5 separate regions of the Homo sapiens genome follow, and all the other regions are linked to region 5. Evidence: fine-mapped expression QTL. A gene starts in region 5. Each other region holds a variant in brackets. All regions are shown on one strand. Distances are from middle to middle. Region 1 holds the start of KRTAP3-3 (keratin associated protein 3-3). Region 2 holds the start of KRTAP4-16 (keratin associated protein 4-16). Region 3 holds the start of KRTAP3-2 (keratin associated protein 3-2). Region 4 overlaps LOC105371777 (a long non-coding RNA gene). Region 5 holds the start of KRT23 (keratin 23).

Region 1 (4,122 bases), 56 kb after region 5:
CCTCAAAGTCTGTTAATAGTGAATGACCTCTGGTATCTCCACTCAGCTTCTAATCACCCAGCAGCCACTCTTTGCTATGCCTGATGGAATTTCAGCCAGCGTATTTGCAACTGTGCCTTCTGTAAGTACTTGAGAACTTTTACACAGTCTTCTTTACTTACCTACGTATATCTTCTTCCTCTCCAGAATAACTTTCCAAACCCCATTTAGATATAGCTACTCGTGTTGCAAACATGACCTGTGTAGAGCAAGAAGAACAGAGTATTTCCATCTTGAACTCTCTTCTCCTTCTCGGCTCCTAGGCTCAATTGGTGACATAACTCCACTGTCTAGTCTTTCTTTGATATTTTCTTTTCCTCCATATCCCTTTGATGACTAGCTGCAGTCAATTCCTCTTTGACTATGTCTTTCCCACTTTACCCCCATGACAACAGTCTTCATTGTTCTCAATTTTATGATCCCACAGCACTTTACTAATACTGCTGGTAGAACACATCTTTTTTTATTATAACACAGCAACTGGCATTCGATAATTATTAACCGTAGGAAGAAACAAATGGATGTTGTGTTTGTATTTGCTTCACCTGCCAGATGGTTAGCTTATTTTCAGCAGAGACAATAAAACACAGGACACACAATAGACATTTAATAAATCTTAGTTGAATAAATAATGACATTATTATATTTTTTTCATAAATAGATCATGTCACCTGGATTAGTTTATATATTTTGTCATATTTGGTGTTTGGGTAATGTTCAGTATTTCTCAACCTGTCTGAAACCATTTTTTGGGAGGACAAGTCAGGAAAAGTCTACTTTCAAATATGCCGATGTACTAGACCATCTTACATGCAAGGATGTTTAATTTTCTTAAAACAGCAAGAACAGCAAAATTAAGAAATTTTTGTCCATACTGCCACCATTTTCAGTTTCACTAATGTTTCCAGTTTTTCTTTAAATGCCAATGTTCAGAGTTAAGAAACGCATTTAATGAATGAACAGAAATAAACAGAAGTAATTGTAGACACTTGTGCTATGCCAGAGATGTAAAATTTATTAGGATAATCATGAAGAACTTCCTTAATTTTCAGAAAGATACCACCCAAGACTGAAAACAGAATTCCCAAACCACCCACAGAAAGAGACACTTTAATATGAAGGAATCGAACAGCTTCAGGAAGCTATAGGCATCCACTGATTCAAACTGCAGTTGGTTATAGCTGAATGGTCATTGAAAGTTTCTTGGTCTCTTTTTTTTTGCAGGGGGTGATTGTGGTAGTACCATCCTTGTTCCAATTTCTAAAGCAGAGTACATTAGTTGTAGGTACTGAGATAGGTGAATGCTAAAGCTTCTATGTTGACTTTTTCAATCTCAGGCACTGAGCAAAGTAGCCATCCATTAGCAGCCTCTTGGGAGGCAGGGCTCACAGCAGGGCTGAGTGAAGGTGGTGAGGTTGAGGGTCTCCAGGCCTGGAGTTGGCTGGCAGGAGTTGAGCAGGAAGCAGGTGGGCACGCAGGGCTGAGGAATGTGGCAGGGTGGGGGACAGTTGTCACAGCAGGTGGGCTCCAGTAACCAAACTGTGTGTGGGCAGGTGCTGGGCAGGCAGACTCCACAGCGGCAGGATTTGTCAGAGGAGCAGATGGTGGTGGCAGGCCCGGTGGGGACACTGCAGCCTCGAGAGGCACAGCAATCCATGGCTATTAGAGTCTGTGGTATTTATGGGTTTGATTGAAAAGAAGGATAAGGCTTCTGAGGTGTGAATATCTCTCCTTTCTCTGGGGCTCTTATGTACCCTCTCCACTGGGAGTTGGTCCAGCCAAGAGGCTTCTTTCCTGGTTCTTGTTTATGTTAGTGTACCCATTATTCTTTAATTTGTTTGACATTTAGACTCTGTAAAGAGTCCCCATTTTCCTAATTAACTTTTATTTGAGTTCGTTGCTAAATCTGAACTGATTAC[C/G]CTTGCTATTTGTCACTGGAACACAAGCTTTATGAGGTATCACCAAAGCCTTCTGTTATTATATTTTCAACACCAGCCCTGCTGGGGAATATTGCATGACAGTGAGTCTGTAATATGTGGGCCTGCTCTCCAGTGCTGCTTTATTTTTAATCTGTCACTTTATCTATACCAATTTGTCTGATAAAGTATTCTTGTTTTAAAGAGTTGAACTTAATTTTACTTTCTTTTAGCTTTGAGGCTTTTGAAGATCAAAATTACATTAACATGAAGAAATATGCCATTAAGAAATATGGAAAAACTTTAAAAAACGCTTATTATTCTAGTTTTTTACTACAAAATATTTTGTATACATTGTTTATCATTACATTACATTACTGGAATCATATTGTGCATAGGTTCTGAAACTTGCCTTTGTGTGTGTGCATATATATTATATATATATATAATTATCTTATATTTTAAAGGATATTTGATAGTGTTACTTTTAATATTTCTTAGCATTTATTATATAATTGCACTTCTATGTTACTTTAAAATTTTATATTATTATGCATTGAGGTTATTTTCCACTTTTCTCTACAATAATTTTGGCAACAGAGCACCTCTGTATGTAAATCTTTGTGCATATTTTTGATTATTTCAGAAACAGAATTAATTATTTGGTAGAATTATAGGGGCAAATGTTAATTTCCAGTATTTTTAAGGCCTTTCATATCATTGCCATACTGTTTTTCAGAATGGTTCTATTTACCTACTTTTTTTTTCAAATTATCTATTTCCACCAGATGTGTTTGATTAAGAATTCCCATTTCGTATACCTTTGACAGATACTTTATTTTAAAGGTGTTTTCCAATTTCATTGGTGAAAAACACAATTTTATGATTGTTGTGTCTGTATTTCTTTTATAACCAGCTAGGTTGAAATATTCCTTCATATGCATATTGGCCATCTGTCTTCTATTGAGAGTTGGCTTGCTTTGTTTCCTTCACTGCTAATTGTGGGCAAATTGAATTTTTAGCTTCTGTCTATATAGACTAAATAAAATAATAACTTAAGAATACAAAACTAAAATTCAAGTAAAATTATTACCAAAGGAAACTTATGAGCCTGAGCTAGATTAATCTGTTGACATTTGATTTCATTCTCTCTCTCTCTTTTTTTTCTTTTTTTTTTTGCAAGGTATTGCATTTTTTCCTGAAATCAAATGTAGCTGTGGTAGGAAAGACCTGGTTCTAGTACCAGTACGCTATTTAGACTGCAGGCATAGTTCAGTGTTTAAGAGGGAGCACAAGGTGGGCTTGTGGCCAATATCATTTATACACCTCGAACCATTTCCGCTCAGCTTGGTCTCATGCTTCTTGCAAGCCATGGTTCTTCTCACATTCTTCATACCTCCTCTTTTAGGCACACCTGTTGAGTGGTGCATTGTGGTGTGCATGTTTGTATGTTTTGGGAATGGGGACGTGTAGTCAAGAGGACCACCTGAGGAGTCAGAATAGCTCTTGACTGTTCCCGGTGCTGCTGGTTATCTTCCTCGTTATGGTAAGTAATTCACTTTTAGGAGCTTCATCCTTTTTCTCTGCGAAATCAGGGTAATAGCATGCATATTCCTCCACTTAGAAGATTATTGTGAGGTTCACATGTGATAAAAAGGGTGAAAGCTCATGGACAACCATATAATGCTATGCAAAAATAAATTATTATCATGATTGAAACAAATTACAGATGAAATTCAAGGCAAGGTAAAGATAAAAGAAACATAGTCAAAAGAAGAAAAGAAAATGAGATGAAGGTAAGTAAGAGAGCAACCTTACAGGAAAGAGCAAACATTTATATTAGTTTATACAAATAAATAAATAAATAAATAATCACATCTACGATTAGAGAAAGTGGTTGGCATATAAATTAACAAACCTAAAAATTTGAAAAGCTCCCTATGGCTCTGATTGAAAGGGAGAATTCATGATATCTTCTGGTTCCTGGACTTTCCCCAGATTTATCTTTGTATGAATGCCTGCCGAAGTGTGCACCCTTTTACTTAGAACTGATTAGTATTTCACTTATTATTTAAAAAGTAATTCAACAGACATTTACTGAGCAGTTACTATGTGCTAGTCACTGTGATAAATGTTGGATTTATAGCAATAAACAAGATAGGCACCA
Region 2 (4,122 bases), 160 kb after region 5:
GAGGCATGTAAGGTCCTTTAAAAATGTATATATCTTTTGACTTCTGGATAAAAGAGAGGAAAACATTCCAAACAAAGAGATCATAATTTCATTTCAGGAAGACTAAACTAATTTACGTGGTAGGTAACATGTCATCTGATAAATAACATATGTGGAAAGTTGTGGAAGTTAAGATTCAATTTATAGAATGAGACTTGTTTATAGATAACCAGGAATACAGTGTTGAACGTGCATGCCTATATTCACACAGTAAAAAGACAGGAAGGAAGTAAACGCCAGATGGTAGCACTGGTTCTCCTTCACCTCCTGACTCCCTCGTTTTACTCTTGTCGATTGAAATAACTATTATTTCCAGTTTCGTATCAGTCAGCCAAAAATGTTTGTTGATCATCTGTTGTCTTAACTTAAATTCTACCCAATGCAAACCTTGAGAAAAATACCTGGGTGCACATAATTTATTTGGGGGATGATCCCAGGAAGCACAAGTGAGGAAATGGCGAAAGTAAGACAGAAAAGGTAGAAAATCCCAACAGTGTTTGTGTTAATGGTAGGACCCCCACTGTGGGCATCTGGGGATGAACCCCGGGGACAGGCCTGAGGCTGGAGGCACTTGGCCACCATGATTGCACACCTACAAAATCCTGGAGAGTCAGCTGGGTATTAGTATGAATCATGAGATCAGATAAAATATGAACTTATACTAATCTATAGACTTTTTATACACTAGCAATAATTGTCTCTAAAATTTAATGGAGAAAAATCACACTGGGGCCTGTCGTGGGGTGGGGGGAGGAGGGAGGGATAGCATTAGGAGAAACACCTAATGTAAATGACGAGTTAATGGGTGCAGCACACCAACATGGCACATGTATACATATGTAACAAACCTGCACATTGTGCACATGTACCCTAGGACTTTAAGAATAATTTTAAAAAAGAACAATGTGCTCACAATTCTCAAGAGTAAATAGAAAAATATGTAAATAAATCTGCCAAGCCTATGTGAAGGAAAGTGTTAATATTTCCTGAAGGACATAAAATAACGTTTGAATAAATGTCAGAACAAGAGATGTGCAACGAAAGCCAAGTTTTCAAATAAATACATACATGTGTTATGCATGCATTTAATGAGGATGTATCTCAATTTGTAACATTAGGTATTGAATGGGATTGGCAAAGACCGTGATGGGAAACTTACCTTTGGTTGCATTCTTTTGTATTGTCTAAATGTTTAAAGAGCATATATTTGTGTATAAATGATATAAAAATCCTTAGAAAATAATAAATTTGATTTATATAAAATTCATAATTTTTTCTACAGATTCTGTTAAGTATGTTTTCTGCTATTATGTTTACATTCTTATTTCTTTCAGGAACTAAAATATTAAAAGTACATTTCAGTCAGTCATTTGAGCTCTCAAATTAGCTATCATGAATTTCAAATTGTTTTGGGGGACAGGCTGGGTTCCCCAGGAAGCAGACACTGAGATGGAGAGCAATATGCAGGAGGTTTATTGAAGCATGCTCTTGGGATTAACACTGGGGAAATGAGGGGAGGGGAGGGGAGGGGAGGGGAGGGGAGGGGAAAGTGAAGGGAGAGAAGGGGAAGGGGAAGGGGAGGGGATTAACACTGGGGAGAGGAGGGGAGGGGAAGGGCGGGGAGGGGAGGGGAGGGCAAGGGAAAGGAAGAAAGGGAGGGGAACGGGTGGGGAAGGGAAGGGGAGGGGAAGGGGAGGGGAGGCACAGCACAAGGGGTGGGGGCAGGTGGAGATGACACAGGTTGG[G/A]TGATAGCAAGTGACGTGGCAGGAGACTCGACCACAGACTGGACGCAGGCAGCAGCAGGGGCAGCAGCAGCTCGATTCACAGCAAGAGGGGCAGCAGCTGCTGGAGATGCAGCAGCTGGGGTGGCAGCAGGTGGGCTGGAAGCACACGGAATGGCAGCACTGGGGTCTGCAGCAGCTGGACACACAGCAGCTGGGGTGGCAGCAGGTCGTCCTGCAGCAGGTGGTCTGACAGCAGCTGGGGCGGCAGCAGGTGGGCTGGCAGCACACGGAATGGCAGCACTGGGGTCTGCAGCAGCTGGACACAGAGCAGCTGTGGGAGCAGGAGGTGGTTCTGCAGCAGGTGGTCTGACAACAGCTGGGGTGACAGCAGTTGGGTGGGCTGGCAGCACACAGACTGGAAGCACTGGGGCTGCATGGCATCTTTGAACTGCACATAGTAAAATGCAAGAGGAAAGAAATGATTTAAAGGTGGAATTCATAATTAAAAGGGAAACAGAACATAAAGATGTGGAAAATGTGGAGACTGACCATATAAAGAATGAAAAAGCATGCAAGATTGTGGCCAAGTAATGCTTTGTTACAAGGATTGATATGAATAGAAGGAAGCTAGGTGCTGTTCATCAAATCAGTGGGAGAATGGCTCTGAAGGCATTTCAAAGATCTTTGAAGCTGTCCCTCCCATCACAGGCTCCAAATGAGAGAATCTTAAGGTCAGAAAGGGTTTGGTACTCTCCACATTCTAGCACAGTGCCCCTTTGCTGCTCCAGTTGTGGCTCAAGTGGGTTTAGATGAGACTTGCGCTGCTGCTGCAGAGGCCACAAACTGTGAGCCTTGGTGGTGTTCATGTAGTACTGACTGTAGATACACAGACTGCAGGAGTTGTGGGGCAATGGTGGTCCACCTAGGTTTGAAAGGATGTTTCTGACAGCCTGCCTTAGGGGTGTAGCCACAGCAGAGAGGTCCTCCTAGGGCCATGCTCAGGAAAACGGGGGGTCAGAGCAGCCACTGAGACCCTAGAACTGTAGAACTATCAGCCTGCAATACTAGCCTGAGAGAGCTGCAGCAGAGACTCCAATCAGATAGCTGCTGTATGGGCTGAGCCCAGCAAAGCCATGGGGCAGGGCTATCTGAGGGCATTTGGGGCCTAACACCAAGGCCCCAGGCAGCCCTTCCCCATGTCGGGCACATCCAGGAGACAGCACATGGAGTCGAAGTTTATTCTCCAGTCTTAAGATTTAATGCTGTCTTCCCTGTTGGACTCACCTGGGGCCAGTTACCCTTTTTTCTTTCCTGTTGCTGCCTTTTGGAATGGGCCTGTCTATCCTATGCCTCTCCCACCATTGGATTTTGGAACTAGATAACTTCTTTAATAGGTTCACATATGGAGGAGAATTTGCCTCAGGATAAGTCCTGTGTTGAGTCTTATTCATATCAGAGTCACATGAGACTCTTAGATTTACATTTTGACTTTTAAGTTGGTGCTGGAACAAGTTAATACTTTGGGACTATTGGAATAAAATGAATATATTTTGTGTACGAGAAGGACATGGATTTGGGGGACCAAGGGTGGAATGCAATGGTTTGAATGTGTCCCTCAAAGTTCATGTGTTGGAAACTTGATCCTCAATGCCGCAGTGTTGGGAGGTTGGGCCTAACAGGAGATGTTTGGGTCATGGTGACACCACCCTCATGAGTGGATTAATGCTGTTATCACAAAAGAGGGTTCCTTATAAAAGGATGAGTTTGACTCCCTCTTTCTCTGTCTCACCCTCTCTTTTTCCTTCCACAGTGGGAAGACACGGTATTCCTGGTTATCTATAACCAAGTCTCATTCTATAAACAGAATCCTAACTTCCACAACTTTCCACATATGTTATTTATCAGGGGACATGTTACTTACCATAGAAATAAGTGTAGTTTTCCTGAAATGAAACTCTGATCCCCTTGTTTGGAATGTTTTCCTCTCTTTTATCCAGAAGTCAAAAGATATATACACTTTTAAAGGACCTTACATGCTTCTATGTCATCAAAAAGCCTTCATTCACTCAAGAAACATTTATCACCAGTGTTCTCTGTCCTGAGTATCATGGTAACAAAAAGAAACATCATAGCCCATGCATTCAGGGTATTTGCACTGTATATGGGGGAATGAAAGAAGTAAATGTCTATGATACAGTAGAATGTATCAAATTATGAGCACAAGACAGGAAATAATAATAGATGAATGGGGTAGCTTATTAGGAAATATATTATTGAGAAGGAAATATTTTAACTGGGTTTTGACACATGAGTAGGAGTTTGCAGAGTGGACAAAAAAAGATGAAACATTCCAAGAAGA
Region 3 (4,122 bases), 63 kb after region 5:
GTTCACACCAAAATTGCACTTGTCTGAGGAAGAAGAGAGAAGAGAAGGCAAACATGAAAGAGAACCTGTTAAAAGTTAGCAAGCCATGTTAGTAGTAGCAAGAATGTTAGTCATTCTGCCAATAGAGTCTTCTTTAAAAGATTAAAATAATCATCCTGTTTTTACCTTTTTAAAATGGAAGAAATATACCCAAAACTAACATAAACAAATGACACATCTTGCCAGAGAAATATAGTTTATTGGAAAACCCACCAAGAAATTTTCTTCTATGAAAATACCCAGTACAAGAAACAAGAGCCAGGAAGCAATATGATCAAGAACATGTAATCTGAGGTCTTAAAGATTGAAACAGTATTTTGCTAATAAAACTCATTCACCTGCCCACAGGAACCAAATGGTTTTTCAGCTAAATAACCATAAAAAATACTTTTCTTTTTTTCCCCCATTAAAACCAAAGGTAAGTTCTTCATATCTGGGTCATCTGGTCTACCTTAACATCTGGCAAACTACTGAGGCAAGTGAATACTGAAGGGACAGCTTCTGGATTCTTCGTTGTCGGGCACTGAGCAAAGTAGCCATCCATCAGCAGCCTCTTGGGAGGCAGGGCTCACAGCAGGGCTGAGTGAAGGTGGTGAGGTTGAGGGTCTCCAGGCCCGGAGTTGGCTGGCAGGAGTTGAGCAGGAAGCAGGTGGGCACGCAGGGCTGAGGAATGTGGCAGGGTGGGGGACAGTTGTCACAGCAGATGGGCTCCAGTAACCAAACTGTGTGTGGGCAGGTGCTGGGCAGGCAGACTCCACAGCGGCAGGATTTGTCGGAGGAGCAGATGGTGGTGGCAGGCCCAGTGGGGACACTGCAGCTGCGAGAGGCACAGCAATCCATGGCAATGGGCGTCTGGTTAGCTTTCAGTTTCTTAGATGAGGATTCTGAGGTACAAATGTCTCCTCTTTTGTTAGGGCTCTTATATACCCTCCCAAGTGGGCATTGGTCCAACTGGAAGCCTTCCTGTTTTGTTTATGGCACCCTTTTTCACTGAGATTCTCTAATCAGTTTGTCATTTACATGTCCATTAAGAGTTCCCGCTCTTATTAAGTTAATCATATTTTTGACTCATTGACTTGTCATTTTTGTCACAAGATCATCACATTTTGTCTTCACAGGTTTCTGGCATGCCAAACCTTATATGACTTTTATGGGTAATCAATCCAAGTGACAATTCAGCTGTAATTTTGGAGGCCAAACTCTTCTTGTTTTTCCCTCTTAATTTAAAATACTATGGATAATGTGATTTCTAATGACTAATTTCAGAATGAGTAACTCAAATGATGAACTGGACCATTTTCAACTCAATAAAGTCAACAAGAATATGGCTATTTACAGATGAATGTTTCATGTGACTACAGGCATCTCGGACATGTTTGCATTATTTAGTGATATTATAATTCAGGTTCTATTGAGCAAGCAAAGTGGTAGAATGGTACAGGATGAAGAAACTCCTTTTTATTATTTTTATTAAATCTGTAGTGAATTTCTCAATGTTGTATTATTCTATGGATTTTTTTTTTCTAAAATAGTCTCTATTCTCAAAGTTATGCCAATCTTGTGGTGAATCAAAGTATAAATTCATTGGAAGGAAGGATCCACACAGTGGCCATTCTTTGTTGAATATACCACTAAAAGAAAACCACCTCAGCCTTGATTCATTTTCACATGAATGGTGTACATACTTTAAAATAAGATGAAATAAGAATTAAAAGGAGAAACCACAAGAGTCACAGAACAATCATGGATTTTGGCAGGGAATCTGACTCAATGCAATTTAGAACTATGGCATTCATAAAAATCACTTTTTCACTGACTTACTCCCTACTTTGCATGTTTATTTGTTTTCATACCTTGGATCTTGAACTAGATTGAAATTCCTTTGAGGTATGCCTTAAACAACATTATTTACTTAAGTCAGCCAGAGATTGAACTAGATAATATCAAATGTGTAATATTCTAGATTCCAACATCTTCCTACACCTGTCCATGATCAGCACAAATCCTTTCAGATAATATTGTATAATTTAAATTACATA[C/A]TCGTTATGTGGCAATTTGTTGACTTAACAGAAAGCAAAGATTCCGGGTAGGTTGTTTCTGAGGGGACATTACCAAAAACCAGTACGATCTACTTAAAAGAGAAGAAAGCTGGCTAAAATCAGTGGAAAATATCAAATGTCATTGGTAGGTAAGCCTTATACGTTATACGTTAAAACAACCAGTTTATCTTTTTCTTTAACAACAAAAATATGTGGTACATATATGCCATAGAATACTATGCAGCCATAAAAAATAAGGAGCTCCTATCCTTTGAAGAAACATGGATGGAGCTGGAGGCTATTATCTTTAGTAACTAATGCAGAAACAGAAAACCGAATACTGCATGTTCTCACTTATAAGTGGTAGCTAAATGATGAGAACGCATGGACACATAGAGGGGAATAACAGATGCTAGAACCTATCAGAGGGTGGAAGGTGGGAGGAGGGACAGGATCAGGAAAAATAACTGGTAGGTACTAGGCTTAATACGTGGGTGATGAGATAATCTGTACAACAAACCCCCATGACACCAGCTTACCTATGTAACAAACCTGCACAGGTACCCCTGAACTTAAAAGTTAAAAACAAAAAAACAGAAAACAGCTTCAAATCATTTTTATTAGCAGGAATTTACAACAAATGCCAAGGGTGTCGAACATCATACTGTTACCAGATGGTGCCATGCAGTTCCAGGCTTTTGGTGTCCCAAAGAATTGGACGAGACACCCACAGCAAAACAAAGAAACAAAAGTGTATTAAGCACAGTATTACACTCTAAGAGGGGGAGAGCAAACCAGCCTCTGTGAGATGAGATCAGCCCCCAGCTTGGTGCAGTTTGCGTCTTTGTGTGTGTGTGTGTGTGTGTATGTGTGTGTGTGTGTCCCTTCCCAAGGCTGCCTAATCTCTAGCCAGTGTTTGCCTCTTTGATTGACAGGTGTGTTGCTTAGTTACTTTGGCCCCTGTGTGCTTGCGCACCACCTCCAGCCCATAATTTTAAGTACATACATGATATGCAGTCCATATGCATAAGCCTGAATGAGCTGATTTTCATACAAGGTCATGTTAAGGATACGTTTTCTCTTTAATGCACATGCTTATCCATGAAGAGTTGCCCCTTACTGGTTTGGTCCTTATCTTGCCGGCCATGGGGGCCTTGCTTTCTTCTCTATCTTACTTTTTGTTTTGGCTGGAGTGCAGTGGCATTCTCTGCTCACTGCAGCCTCTACTTTCTGGGATCAAGTGATTCTCCTACCTCAGACTCCCAAGTAGCAGCTGGGATTACAGGTGCCCGCCACCACACCCAGCTAAGTTTTGTATTTTTTGTAGAGAGGGGTGTTTCTCCATGTTGGCCAGGCTGGTCTTGAACTCCTGATCTCAAGTGATCCACCTGCTTCGGCCTCCCAAAATGCCAGGATTACAGCATGAGCCACCGCGCCTGGTCTAACTTCTGCTTCTTATCTTGCTTCTTGCTTACCTGCCCCTTCACCTTGCTTCTGGTCTCTGCTTTTATTCACTCCACCCTTTATCCAAGTTTTAATTCCCTTTGCTAGTCTCCTGCCTCAATACCTGCACTTTACCACTGAAGAACAGATAAGCAAATTCAAGTGGCTTTCCCAGTATATTATAAAATTCAAAGTTAATGAACTAGTATTGAAATCGTCAAGGAAATGTTTAATGTTTACTTACTCTTGACTTACCAGTCTCTCTCATCTAGAAGCCAGTGGCTTGGCAAGTAGAATATATGAAGAAGACCCTCTCCCATTCTCTGTGTTCTCTCTGACTTCTCTTTTAAAATCGATTTTGAAATATTATATAGATTCAGGAGATCTACTGTACAACATGGTGACTATAGTGAATAACCATATATTGCATTTTTGAAAAACGCTGAGAGAATGGATTAAGTGTTCTCATCACAAAAATGATAACTATGTGAGTCACGCATATGTTAATCATACAGCACATTACATAAAGTGAAGGCGGGAGTCTCCTAGGTACTTTACCCTCTGTGACCTCGTTCATACTGTTTCTTTAGCTTAAAGTGAC
Region 4 (4,122 bases), 47 kb before region 5:
GGAAAATTTCCAGAATGCAGCTAAGTGACGAAGGAGGAAGTCAAGAAGGCATGAAGGCTATAATTAGAAGGTCTAAATATGTCTAATCAGAGTTCCAGAAGAAGACACAAGAGAATAAGAAAACATTCAACAAAATAAAAAGTGAGAATTTTATAGAATTCTTTAAAAAAAACCCAAGTTCTCAGATTAAGGAGACCTAATGAATTCCAGGCAAAAGGAATAAAAATAAATCACTACACACATTGAGGCAGAAAACCAGATAATTACAAGCAGATAGAGAATAAATCACCAACAAAGGAATGGTGGTTAGACTGATGACTGACTCCTCAAAAGCAACAATGGACACTGGAAATGGAATAGAATCTTCAATGTGCTGGGAGGAAATAACTGCCATTCCGGAATTTTCTGACTCGGTAACATTATATTTGAAGAAGGGTAAAATAAAGCCATTTTCAACATTTAAAAAACTGAATTTGCCATCAACTTCTAAGTTTTCACTAAGAGCAATCTGAAAGAATGTGTTTTAAGCAGAAGGAAGATGATTCCAGATGAAAGTTCTGAGATGCATAAAAGAATTAAAATAATGAACAAATAGAGTGCTAAGCATGCGACCAAATGTAAATGTAAAGACAAGTATTGGCTATAAAATAATATATCTATTGAGAAGAAAAAACAATATGGAATTAAAGTAGATGAGGGCTGGAAGGGGATGAATGGAGTTAAATTGTTCTAAATTGCGGGACTGTTTAGGAAAACAGCAAACATACAGATTAACTTTAGATATTGACAGGTTAAGAATGCATATTATATTTTCCACACAGGGACACATGGCGGAGAACAACACACACTGGCACCTGTGGTTGGGGGGAAAGCATCAGGAAGAATAGCTAATGGACGCTAGGCTTAATACCTGGGTGTTGGGATGATCTGTGCAGTAAACCACCGTGGCACATGTTTACCTATGTAACAAAACTGCACATCCTGCACATTTACCCCTGAACTTAAAATAAAAGTTGAAGAAAAAAAAGAATGCATATTATGTTTTCTAATTTTATGGTTTTGCCTTTCACATGATGGCTCTTACAATGATCTGGAAATAAGCCAGTGAATTAGCACAAAGAGCTCAGAAACAGATCTGTTGCCTATAGAAACTAATTTTGTACGGCTTGGGCATTTCAAATCAATGAGGAAAGAAATGGAGTATCCCATATTTAACAAATGGCAGTTGTATTTCTGTCTAAGGCAAAATTTACCTAAAATATAAGAAAATGAATTCCAGATTCATTAAAGATAAAAATGTGAAAAGTTAAAAACTATACAACATTTAGAAGAAAACACAGAATAATATCTCTAGGAATTAGAGTAAAGGAGTATTTTTAAACAAGACACAAAAAGTGAAAACTGTGAAGTACAAAATTGATACTGATTTAGCAATTTTTATTCATTAAAATATACCATAATTATAATGAAAAAAGCCTCAAACAGGGAGCAGATATTTAGAAGTCATGTAACTGACAAGCAATTAGTTTCCAGAATATGGAAAATTCCTACAAATCAATAAGAAAAAGAAAAGCATCCCAGTGAGAAAGTGGGCAAAATATGAATAGATTTGCAGAGAAGAGGAAAGCTGAATGGCCCATTCCACATCTGCCAATCGGAAAAATTTAAAAAGTTGGACGATAGCAAGGTGGCCGAGGGGAATTCCAGTCCATTCATGTTAGCTGTATAAGTAGGTACAATCACTTTGTAAAATAGTTTGAGATTATCTTAGAAGGCTGAACATTCATATAGCCATCACTCAGCAAACAATTCCTAGGTGTACACTTCAGAGAAACTCTTGTAAATATTGAACGATAGACATGTACAAGAATATTCACAGAAGCATTGTTCATATTAACAACACACACACGTACTAACATACACACACACAACAGAAAACTGGAAACAACTCAAATGTTAAGAGTAGAATGAATAAATGCGTTGATACATGTTCGTACAGTGGGATGCTATGCAACAGCTAAAAATGGATAAATTAGCTGGGCGCTGTGGCTCATGCCTGTAATCCCAGCA[C/T]TTTGGGAGCCTGAGTTGGGTAGATCACTTGAGGCGAGGAGTTCGAGACCAGCCTGGCCAATATGGTGAAACCCCGTCTCTACTAAAAATACAAAAATTAGCTGGGTATAGTGGTGGGCGCCTGTGATCCCAGCTATTCGGGAAGCTGAGGCAGGAGAATCGCTTGAACCCAGGAGGTGGAGGTTGCAGTGAGCCGAGATCATGCTACTGCACTCCAGCCTGGGCAAAAGAGCCAGGCTCTGCCTAAAAAAAAAAATAAAAAAAAATAAAAAATAAAAATAAAAAAAAGATAAATTACATTATTGACATGGATAAATATTAAAAAACATAATGCTGAAAAAAGACAACAGAATCCATCCAGATTTTATTGATATATAGTATAAAAACAGGCAAAACGAAATAATGTATGCTTAAGAGATATACATATAGATAATGTAGATTGCAAATGATGGTCACAGATTCCTCCTGTCTCTGATGCACACTCCTTTGCAAGTCCTTTCAGAGTCTGAGGGGCATCTAGACCATTTCCAATTTTTGAAGCTCCTGGTATATTAAACAATTGAAAAAAATTTAAAGTGTTTATATTTCCTTTACATTACCATTTGCAACACAAAATCTCATAATACAATAAACCTGTACCAATCACAAGATTTATTTAAAAAATACTAACTTATTTTAGTGTACTATAGGCTACGTGGTCCAGTGTGGGGGCATAGTTTCAACGGATGAGATGGATATCTTAATCGTGATCCTCCTGCGTCGGCTTCCCAAAATGTTGTGAGTACAAGTGTGAGCCACTGTGCCTAGCCAAGATGGATATAATCTTTTCATCCCAGAGGTGACGTTTGAAACCAGATAGGGCTGCATTTGGATTTAACATCCTAAATCTCTGACTGGGAAGCCACAGGCTCAACGGTCCTCTTCACCCCTGCAATTGGCTCCGTATCCGTGTTATTTTGCCCATGTCCAGTGTTATGCCAAGGACAAGTGAGTACTTATTTTACACAAGCTTGACTAAGAGAGAGCCCAACTGAATTCCTCCCAAAACAGAAGAATAATTTGTCACCAAGACTAATTCTAGTTCCTACCTCTAGAATCATAGTAAAGAAGTTACTGACAATTTAAAAATAATATTAGCACCTGTTTCTAGCCATCATTAGTTCATGAACGTTGAGGTCCAGTCTCAAACACCTACCTAAAAATGCAAATCTGATTATTTCACTTCTGTAAAAAACTGACAACAGTATGTAGTCAAGTCCAATATACAGCTCTCAAAGATCTAGCTCCTGCCTACCTTTTTAGACCCCCTGGTCACCCCTCCATGCCTCAGATGGCACACTCCAGTAACACACACCACTGATTCCTCCATTCCATGCTTCTGTATACTCCATCCCCTTCTCTTCTTCTGCATGTCATCTCTTCCAGGAAGCCATCCCTGTGCTCTCAAATTCCTTCCCTCCAGGATGACCAACTGTCCTGGTTTGCCCAGGACACAGAGCTTTCTGCAATGTGAGACTTTCAGAGTTAAAACTGGGACAGTCAGTCCCAGGACAGTTGGTCACCCCGTTCATCTCTCCTGTGCATGTCTCTCTTTCTTGGGTATAGTGTGTGCATGGGCTTTGGCCCTGATTCCTTTGTGGAATGAGTGGGTGTGGGACATGGGGAATAGGATGAGATGAGAATGACTGGGTGGTGATAGTGGTACCCCATGGCAAGGGGGACACTGGGACAGGACTGGGAGATGGTTTGGGAGATGGTTTACTTAACATAATGACCTCCAGTTCCATCCATGTTGTTGCAAATGACAGAATCTCATTGCAAAGGGAAACATGGTGTGTTTGTGGAAATGCCAAGTTTGTAGCACTTGTGTCAGATTTAGGTGGAGGAGACCTGGATGAAGAGGAAGACTGTTGAGTATTCTGATTTGGAGACCAGGCTGGGAGTGCATAATAAGGTACTGATAAGGTACGTAGGAAAGGTTTTCTCCAGTATTATTGATTTTTTTTTTTTTGAGACAGAATCTTGCGCTGTTGCCCAGGCCAGAGTGCAATG
Region 5 (4,122 bases):
AGATGTTTTTGGTCTGTGAGAAATCAGTAGTCTCATTTTTGAAACAGTCTGTAGCACTTCTATCATTTTTGCTGCCTTCTTTTTCTACATTATCCATGGACAGTAGACTAATTAAACAAAACAGACGTTTCCCACTCCAAATTTAAGATATAATAAGAAAACATCCCCCAAAACCTTTGTGCACAATTACTTCAAGCGCTGATGCCATTTTCCTGGAAATTGTCTTCTGGACTCATTTTTCCTCCCGAGGGTCCCCTGGCAAAGCAGCCCCATCTGGATCTCCAGGGTCACCCAGCATCTTACCTGCTCCTGCAGGTGTGTGATGTTTTCCTCATACTGGGAATAATCTTTCTTACTGCCAGGATCTCTCTGCTGGTGCCATTTCAGGATGCGGCTTTCCAGCTTCATGTTGGCCTCCTCCAGGGCGCGAACCTTCTCCAGGTAGGAGGCCAGGCGGTCGTTGAGATTCTGCATGGTGGCCTTCCCATTTCCGCCTAGTAGGGGGCTGCTTCTTCCAGAACCCCAAGACCCTCCAGGGGGTGGGCAGCTCCGCGTGGTGAAGGACAGGGAGATGCGGGCTCCCCCCGCACCGCCATGGACGGTGGGAGCCCTGGGGAAGCTCCTGGGCCGGCCCCAGCCACCTCCGGCGCCATGGAAGGAGGCCGAGGGGGTCTGGCTGAAGCTGTGTCCGGAGTTCATGGTCCCATCTGTGTTTGGGACGGGGCTGAGCTCTGCTCCACTCCCTGGCACCGCAGAACTGAGCCGCCCCAGACTGCCCTGGATGGTTTTATGGCCTTTGCTGTGGGAGTTCCCTTCTCTGACAATTGTACCAACAAGATTGTATCATTGTGCAACTTGTGTTTCCTCTTGGTCAATCCCAAAGTGCCCCTGGGCCTTCGCACACTGTTGTTGTTTAGAGCCACATCAATATGACAGTTTGCTTCCTCCCTTCCCCTGGTAACCCGGAGGTGTGGCCCACGACATCAGGCGGGTATTGGGCTCAGGTATCTTTCTAATCTTGCCGTGAAGTTTTTCCATTGTTCATTTACCTGGAATGGGTTAGGTTAAAGTCCACCCAAAAGAAAGCATATTCGATGTAGTATAGATTTCCTTAAAAAAAACCAAAAACCAAAACCAAAACAAAACAACAACAACAGCAACAAAAAACCAGACATTAAACAACAGAGATACACACACCTTTTTCCACCCCCAATAAGCCCCACCTCTAAAGGGAGGGTGAGCGAGCCTGGAGAAGGGAAAGCCAGCTCAGAACAGGATCTCAGGTCCCAGAATAAAGCTTGCTGTGCTGAGGCAGCCGAGAAGGTGGTGAATATCTGATGCCTTTGTGGCAGTCACTGTTTGAAGGAAAGTACTTTCAAAGGACTCGCTCTTAAGAACAAACCCTCAATTATAGATGTAATTAATTAATGAATGACCGAACCTTCCACTTCCAGGGTGCCTTTCATCCCAGCACACCTCAAAACCAAACAACCCTGGCCTGCGCTCAGGATTTCCCTTGGCCCTGGGGGAGGAATGTAGCCGTTGTTAGCAGCCCCGGACCCCGGCTGAGCCTGCCACGGCTGGGCTCTGTGTGTCTGTGACCTGCAGAGGGACGATGGAAAACAGGAAACCTGCCATGGGCTGTCAAATGTGGTTGATGAATCTTATATTTCATCTGCCAAGGTAAAGGTTAGGAATGAATAAAGAAGCAGTCTGGGGGCGGGAGCCACGTGCTAGTTACTGGCAGTTGGATTTAAAGGGGACTTACAAATAAAATATCAGCGCAGGAAGGGCTTCTGGCCTTTCTGGTTCCAAGCCACTAATTGGACAGATGAGGAAAGCTGAGGCCTATGGTGGTGGGGAGGTTAGTGGCAGAGCCAGGGCTAGATTCTTTCTCCACATAGCACTGTTATCTTGGGTTGAATCTTGACAGGTCCTGTACCACACTTCTCTTTCATAATAATAGGACTTGCCAATTGGTGTAGCTCTTTTATATTCTTTATTGAATCCTCACAACTCTTTATGTATCCAGGCAAGGGTTGTTGTCTTCATTTTGCAGACAAAGAATCAGGGTCTCATAGGGATGAATGATCCAGAGCTGATTCGCATGTACAGTGTAATTGAGCACATGAATTCATAGGTGACACTGCCCGAGTCTGTGCTGTCCTCCCTGCCTGGAAAGTCACTCACCCCTACCTCTTCTATAGTTCAAGGGCTACCTCCTTCAACAATCATTTTCTGAATTCTCCTGCATGAGTTGGGTGACCCTCTAGGAGGAAACTGCCTCTTCTGGATGCCGAGGTCCTCCAGAGGGGCAGACACCTTGGCATCCCACCTCATGGTGGAAGCTGGGAGCCCCTAGCCAGGCGCAGCCACCTCCTGTGCCTGGGATGAAGTCCACTCCGTTCTTTCACTCCATTATACTGCATTTGCCACACCCTTCTGAGACCGCAGGCTTCTTGAAAGCAGAGTTTATGTCTTCCATTTTTGAGCACCAAAGTCTGGTTTCTTGGTGGTATTTTGCAAATGTATGTTGACTCAATCATAAACTTTTTAGAGTCAGGATTTTAACACAGGTCTCCTGATGCCATCAACTTCTGCTCCTTTTAGGACTGTGAGTTATAGAACTAGAAAGTAGGAAAACGCCTCTCCTGGGTATAGATTAACCATCCATGAAGGCCAATCTTTTCCAATTACAAATAAAGCCACCCAAAAGCACACCAGCTCTGCTCCTCCCAGTCTTACAACAAAACCTTATCAGGGAAGAGTCTCTGAATATTTTTTATTTCACTGTGCACGAGCTGGAAAAATGAGCCTCCAAGCCTCAGGGAAGCTTGGAGAGTGCTTAGAAAGAGTGCCGACAGTCACTTACATCTCAGATATGAGAAAAAGACAAAAGAGACAAGTGATAAAAATAGAGCAAATGAGGGAACTAGAGAGACTTGTTTGGCGAGTGGTGGCAACCAGTGTTCTGTGGATGTGGACGGTTCCTGGTCATCAAAGTTATGGTCAGCTCTGGTTCCTGTTCGCCTGGACCCAGACTTACCAAGGAAGAAAACATTTACCTTTAGCATGTGCAAGGGCCGGGCTGCACTGCCTTTTTCTAAATTCTCTCACCAGAATCTACAATGAAATTAATGCTTCTCTAATTATTTCAGGCATGTCTGAGTGGCAGTGACTTATCAACCCCATAGATTTGGCCACTGTCTCATTTTATGTCCATGTGTGGGAGTTTTGATTTATAGGACTTATCCTTGAGCAAAAGATTTCTTGTGTCATAGCAGGACCAGGGCCAGGAAAAACTGGTGGTGAGATCTGAGAGCACTGGGGAGAAATAGTCTCTTCTAGTACTGTTATATGATGGTTTCCCATAACTTCTTTTTTTTTTTTTCTCAAGATGGAGTTTTGCTCTGTCACCCAGGCTGGAGTGCAATGGCGCAATCTTGACTCACTGCAACCTCCGCCTCCTGGGTTCAAGCGATTCTCCTGCCTCAGCCTCCCGAGTAGCTAGGATTACAGGTGCGCACCACCATGCCCAGCTAATTTTTTGTATTTTTAGTAGAGACGGGGTTTCACCATGTTGGCCAGGCTGGTCTTGAACTCCTGACCTCATGATCTGCCTGCCTTGGCCTCCCAAAGTGCTGGGATTACAGGCATGAGCCACCCTGCCCAGCCAATTTTCCATAACTTCTTTTTTTTTTTTTTGAGACAGAGTCTCGCCCTGTCGCCCAGGCTGGAGTGCAGTGATGTGATCGTGGCTCACTGCAACCTCCACCTCCCGGGTTCAAGCGATTCTTCTGCCTCAGCCTCCCGAGTAGCCGGGACCACAGGTGCGTGCCACCACGCCCGGCTAATCTTTGTAGTTTTTAGTAGAGACGGGGTTTTACCATGTTGGCCAGGCAGATCTTGAACTTCTGACTTTGTGATCCACCCACCTCGGCCTCCCAAAGTGCTGGGATTATAGGCATGAGCCACCGCACCCGGCCCTGGTTTTCCATAACTTCTAATGTGTAGAGTTCCATTGGATTTTAAAAGAAATGATGCTTTTTTAAAAGCATCATTTTAAAAGCATTAAAAGAAATGATACATGCTTATTATACAAAATCAAGTGATACATGATGG

The links. PIP is the estimated chance that this variant, and not a neighbour inherited with it, causes the effect. A credible set is the group of variants that fine-mapping cannot tell apart.
Region 1: its variant is the best candidate, but not a certain one, in a credible set for the expression of KRT23 in whole blood (INTERVAL, PIP 0.67).
Region 2: its variant is the best candidate, but not a certain one, in a credible set for the expression of KRT23 in whole blood (TOPMed, PIP 0.54).
Region 3: its variant is the best candidate, but not a certain one, in a credible set for the expression of KRT23 in whole blood (INTERVAL, PIP 0.60).
Region 4: its variant is the best candidate, but not a certain one, in a credible set for the expression of KRT23 in whole blood (TOPMed, PIP 0.67).

What each region holds. Positions count from the first base shown.
Region 1 is chr17:40,992,402-40,996,523 of GRCh38, forward strand. It overlaps KRTAP3-3 (keratin associated protein 3-3), which reads right to left and starts at 1,763. Exons shown (of 1, transcript NM_033185.3): 1 at 1,029-1,763. The coding sequence starts at 1,696. The coding sequence ends at 1,400. The variant C/G (reference allele first, on the strand shown) is at 1,959.
Region 2 is chr17:41,099,991-41,104,112 of GRCh38, forward strand. It overlaps KRTAP4-16 (keratin associated protein 4-16), which reads right to left and starts at 2,219. Exons shown (of 1, transcript NM_001396067.1): 1 at 1,512-2,219. The coding sequence starts at 2,219. The coding sequence ends at 1,512. The variant G/A (reference allele first, on the strand shown) is at 1,785.
Region 3 is chr17:40,998,975-41,003,096 of GRCh38, forward strand. KRTAP3-2 (keratin associated protein 3-2) reads right to left here and starts at 932. Exons shown (of 1, transcript NM_031959.3): 1 at 219-932. The coding sequence starts at 879. The coding sequence ends at 583. The variant C/A (reference allele first, on the strand shown) is at 2,079.
Region 4 is chr17:40,889,110-40,893,231 of GRCh38, forward strand. All of the region lies in intron 1 of LOC105371777 (a long non-coding RNA gene), which reads left to right. Among named protein-coding and RNA genes, the nearest start is that of KRT20, 5.9 kb to the left of the region's middle. The variant C/T (reference allele first, on the strand shown) is at 2,071.
Region 5 is chr17:40,935,905-40,940,026 of GRCh38, forward strand. It overlaps KRT23 (keratin 23), which reads right to left and starts at 1,742. Exons shown (of 9, transcript NM_015515.5): 1 at 1,442-1,742; 2 at 304-1,049. The coding sequence starts at 699. All of the region lies in intron 1 of LOC107985072 (a long non-coding RNA gene), which reads left to right.